Regions from separate parts of the Homo sapiens genome. Here region 2 is linked to region 1. The links come from fine-mapping of genetic effects on gene expression. A gene starts in region 1. The other region holds a variant in brackets. All regions are shown on one strand. Distances are between the middles of the regions.

Region 1 (2,935 bases):
TTCCAAGATATCCCAAATAAAACTAACTGTAAAAGCAAATATCCTTGCTCCTTTGTCTAGACACCATTGCTACTTTCATTCTTGCTTTGGGCTGTGATGCTTGCTACTCCCTTTTTCTGCTGTCCCAAATTATGAAGCCCTTTTATTCATTTAAAAAGAATACCTATGCATATGTATAAATATATATATATATTTTTCCTTTTTCTAAATAACATTTTATTCATTTTGACCATGTGACTCATTCGTATGGTCAATGAGCCCAAGGTGTTGATGACTCTTAAACATGTTTCTCCTAGCATAAATATTGGTGGCAAAAAGCAGAATAATGATCATAGTTTTGAAATAGAGAATACCATTAATGTCTTTGATTTTTGAAAATGATATTTTAAAAAACAAACATGACTATGTCGTGATACCTTAAAATTCAGGCTGAAAACAATTTATTAGGTAATCCACTTCAGGTTTCTTTTGCAGGAGGATTATTTTCCATTTTCTTATGGATTATTTTCCATTTTCTTGCTAAAATCAGCAAAACATATATACATATAACAATATACCACTAGTTCATTAAAAGAACTTATTCTTTTTGTTCTCAAATCAAGCTCATTTTAGATTGACAATATCTTAATGCATTTTAGGAATATATTGTCAAGATTAAAATCTTACTTTTTATTAGCTGAAGTTGTATATATTCATTATATAAAACTGACTTATGTTGCATAGAATTAAAACCCTCCCCAGAGTTCATAGTTTTAAACAAATATGCATACATATCCAAATACATATTAAATCCAAAGCAAACAATAACTTTATGTTGACAGTGAAAAATGCAACCTTACATACATAGTCTACAAAACAACTGAAAAATTTTAAATGCCAGATATGAGGAAGCCAAAGAATTTTAACAATGAGAAATATGTTATGAATTAAAATATTCAATCTTGAAAACCTTTAAAAGTGAAAGTTGCACTGTAACTGCTTTCTAAGGTAATTTTTGCCACTTTTAGGAAAAAAGATGTTTACGTAACATTTTTAAAAGTACAATCATTTCTTACATAGCTTTATGATTGAGGATAACATTAGTATGCACATACAACATAACACACAAAAGCAAAGCTTAGAATAACATTTTAATTATGTTTTAGTGTATGTGAAATAATTTGTTTTTCTCAATTATATTCCTGGGTCAAGGCCTAAAACATTTATTTGAACCAGCTATATATCTTATTTTCATAAGGGTCTCAGGAGGCAGTAGTCATATGTTGTTACTTCAGCCCTCCACAAAGGCAATACAGTACAGATCTCTGTACTGTAAACGACAACAAGGACCAGTCACAATTTCAGTTCTTGTTACATTGATAAGACTCCTTCAGGTAAGAGATTAAAACATGCCTTTATTATTATAAGGTTAGTGACCATTTTAATGGAATAAAAAGATTATTCCTGTTGCATTGGAGATAGGAAATTTGGGATGTGAATGTATGAGGTAGGTGTCTTTTCTCTCTTGTGCCTGTATTGTTCAAAAGCTCTTTGACATTAGAAAAAGGTTAGCTCTATAATCTTAATATTAATATTTAGTATAAAATCTATGGAGAACACACATTATACAGGGAGCCAAAAAGTTCAACTCTTTTTTTAATGGAGAGAAGGTAAGTAGGTGATCTTCACAGACTAAGAGGTTTTGCCTTTTAACACCAACAACATAATACTATTTATATTTGCTCTATCATTGTGATTAACCTACCTTCCCCTTCCAAAAAAACACACTTAGCTTACTCACCTAACAGTAATGACATATATCATTTTAAAAACAAAGAATAGTTTCAAAATTAATTTTTTCTACCTAATGTGCGTGACTGATGTTGAAAAGTTAGTGAGGGTTACCCATATATTCACACATGTAAATTGTGGAAATAAGAGAGAGAGAAAAAACTCAACAGATATAATCTGTAAAGCTGTCAAAAGACTTTCAAATAGCGAATTCCTTCAGATCATATATTTCAATAGAAGTTGCTGTTTAAATAGAGGTCTCTCATTTGGTGGGAGGAGCTTTTAAAAGAAAAAATACTTGAAGATAAGTAATATTACCTTTGCCATTTGTTATGAAATAAATATATCATGAGGAGTTATGCTTCATTAAAATGTAATACTTATAGATGACAGTTTCATATGGTCAGATATAAAATGTATATATGTTTTACCAGGAAGATTATACAGTATTTTTAATCTTGATTTTTCATGACTTCTTGCAAATATGCATTTATTGCTTTCCAAACCATGCCTGGGAATGAAGGAGAAAAAATTGTTTTATCCGAAGAGTTAGCTGTTCTTCCTTGGTTCAATCAGGAGTAAGTTCTGATATCATAGAGGGGAATGTATTAAGATAATTCCTAAAATATAACTGTGCTTTTACTGTTTTGCCTATGCTGCCAGAAAGTTAAAAACATTTTGTTTCAAATAACTGTGTATGTTTAAAAGTCAAACCTATTATTTGCTATATTATTTGTCATGTGCTATAATTTGACAGAGGGGCAATATTTCTCCAAAAAGTAAAATTTTATAACCAAAGGCCATCAATTGTACAAACGACTAAGAGAATTAAATTTTATTAAGTTGGAAATGTAATTTATTCATTGTAACTGTTTTAAGAGAAATTAAGTGAGCACTTTGTATGTAGTTATCTTAAATGTTACGTGTATTCTTTTAGAAACTCTTTCTTGTTTTCCTTCTTTTCACCTTCAGTGTCCTGGCACGCGACTAGCACAAATCAAACCTTATCTGTCATAATAAACTATAGCGTTGGAAATTCTAAAGAGACTAAAAATTACTTAACGTCTTTAACATATTTGAAGTAATATTTATGAATAAGGGAGGGCTGTCCATTTTTGAGTTTCGTCGCGCCAATGGTTGAGGGATTTTCTCATTATCATCTCCT
Region 2 (2,935 bases), 97 kb after region 1:
AAATGAATCTTGGTCCTATAGTAAAAAATATGGCGAAATATACCCTTGATTTAAAAATATTTTGTTGGGACCTTACCATGACATTCTTTACATTGTCTGGAATATCGTATCTATCTCTATTGTCACATTTCTTAAGTTATCTTGAGTAAAACTACAATCCCTCTCACATAAATAGATACACATACTAACAAACAAACAACCAAAACACACTCCTGGTGAAGCACAGAAAATGTTTTTCTTTGTAGAAGCTGAAATCAGGAACTTGGGGTCTGACAGATCCAGGTTTGAGTACCAGCTCTGCCACTTACATACAGAGTGACCTTGGGCAAGTCAGTCCCTCCAGTCCAGGCTAGTAATATTCAATATTACAGGGTGTTTGTGAGAATGAAATTAGGTGACATATGAAAATGATCTAGCATGGTAATTTGCACCTGATCAATGCTCGGTAAATAGTGACTATTATTATTATTTAAAAATCATCAGGCACAAAATTGTAATTCTTTACACTTGCCTTAATTACCTCCACATTTCATCATGACAGTTATATTTTCTACCACCCTGCTGCACTCTTTAAACTCCTTCCAGTATTAGCATCATTCTGTGCACAACAAACTCAAGAGTTTATCCACATGTACAATTTGTTTTGGGGAGAAATACTATCTGTGGATGACAGTGGAAGGTTAAGATTGCAGAGGAGATAGAAGGAAACAATAAATATCACCATGTCTTCGGCTTGTCTTCAAGCTGTGGACAATCCAATTGAGGAATCAACAAGTGCTCTTTCCTTTAAAGTTCTAAAAATATTTGACAAAGCAATGCATCCACAAGCAACCTAATGTCAGACAAGCTAGCTACTAGTTGGATAGAAAAGTGTGAAATGGCTCCCTTCCTTCCATATTAAACTTGCTGATGCCTTAATAAACACCACCCCCCAAGATTGCTGTTCATTCAGCTTTGTCTAGAAATCCAGTGACTGTAATCACTTCATTATTTCCTCCAACATCTGGAAGGATATGTGGATATAGACCATTATCAGAAAGATGATTTTACTGAAAAATAATCTTAATGTTTGCTTATTATAAAGATGCATAGAATCTGGAAAGTGCTGCCAAGTGTTTTTCCATCACAGCACCTTTTAGTTCAGAGAGTTCACTTCAAACAGAAGTCAAGG[G/A]GCCATTCTCCTGTTTTTTTCTACCCATCTGCCTACTCCATCCCTTGCTCCAAGGTCCTGGCTTCTGTTTAGTAACATGCTAAGGTCAAAGGCTCTGAGACTTTTATTCTTGGCTCCATTTATAGGAATAGATAAATTCATCCTAGGAACAAGCTCAGGTTGTCTTTGGAGATTTTTCCAGAGTGAACTATTCGAACAGTAAAAATATCAATGACAATGAAACAAACATCTTTCTCTAAATTTTACCATGTCTAATTGTTTAACTTCAGTGTGTCATTATGCTAAAAGTTCTTCCTTACTATGGGTGAAGAAGGGAAGGAATGAAGTGTTTGAAGGAAATTTAAAATTTTGTCCTGCCACATAATACGCTGGAAATGAAGGGAATAACATCCTCTGATTCTTGCCTCTGGCCTCACTGAAGAGACTTCCTAGCTGTTGCCCAGCTATCAGAAGTGTTTCATAACAGTATGAAAAGAATTTTGTTGTCCATACTCTAAAAAAAGCATGAGGAAAGCAATGTTTTGTAATAGTTCCAAATGAAGTAGAGGCTGCTCCCTTTGTGACACTCTACTATTGAGAATCCACAGCTCCTTAGCAATGAGACATAGGAGGAAGATAGACTCATCTGGTCCCAGTATTAATAATGCACTGTTTAAATTAACACAGTACATTCAGTTCAATCAAGGGTGTTAAAGTGCCTACTATATGCTAGTCATAGTAGTAAGTCCTAAGTTTAACAAAGAAAAGGTCCCTGCCTGCTGTAATTAACAGTCTAGTGAGATAGAAAGACAAGTAAACATATCATTTAAAGGCTTAAATAGAGGTGTTATAAGGTACTGCGTGAAAAAATGAAGTGTTTGGATATGTTTGTATGCATGTCTTTGGGGGAGGTTGGAGGCTTAAAGGATGTCTGGACAATGTTAAGAAGGGAGTTGAACAAAGAAACAAATACATTGATAAGCATGTTCTAGAAAATTCTCTCTCTTATATTTGTGAGTTTGCATCAGGGGAATGTCAGCAATATTTACCATGAATCTAATTGCCAGTCCCTCTGTGTGTTCATAGAATGCTAATGTGTGTACTATCCCATTCCTATGCTTGACCCATTTATTTTCTAATCTCCAGTTTGGAGAAGGAAATACTAATTTTACCCCAAGCATAATTTCATCTGTGACACACTGTGTTGTCAACAGTGAAGATGCAATCTGGGTAGAGAATATAACCTTAAGACAGTCTTCTTAGAGCAAATAAACATGTTCTTGCATTAACCACTTATTCTCTTTGGAGAGCTAATTACTCTTCCCTCAGCTGGCTGGGGCTGAGGGTGAGGGGCAAGGCTTTGCTGCAGAGAAAGTCAAATATCTGACTAAAAAGACTTTTCATCTATGTATCTGATACTTTTTAAACAATTTGCATCAGCTAAGTGTTATGGGTTTTCCATCACATTTGGAATAATGAAAATATTATGGCTGGGCACGGTGGCTTACACCTGTAATCCCAGCACTTTTGGAGGCCGAGGTGGGTGGATCACGAGGTCAGGAGTTCGAGACCAGCCTGGCCAACATGGTGAAACCCAGTCTCCACTAAAAATACAAAAAATTAGCCGGGCGTGGTGGTGGGCACCTGTAATTCCAGCCACTCGGGAGGCTGAGGCAGGGGAATCACTTGAAGCCAGGAGGCAGAGGTGGAAGTGAGCCAAGACTGCACCATTGCACTCCAGCCTAGGCAACAGTGTGAGACTCCATCTCAAAAAGTAAATAAATA

The links. PIP is the estimated chance that this variant, and not a neighbour inherited with it, causes the effect.
Region 2: its variant is fine-mapped to the expression of LINC02268 in sigmoid colon (GTEx, PIP 0.95).

Annotation. Positions count from the first base shown.
Region 1 is chr4:174,218,752-174,221,686 of GRCh38, reverse strand. It overlaps LINC02268 (long intergenic non-protein coding RNA 2268), which reads left to right and starts at 1,289. Exons shown (of 5, transcript NR_125896.1): 1 at 1,289-1,373.
Region 2 is chr4:174,121,646-174,124,580 of GRCh38, reverse strand. The region is part of intron 1 of LINC02268 (long intergenic non-protein coding RNA 2268); the gene reads left to right. Among named protein-coding and RNA genes, the nearest start is that of LINC02268, 97 kb to the left of the region's middle. The variant G/A (reference allele first, on the strand shown) is at 1,172.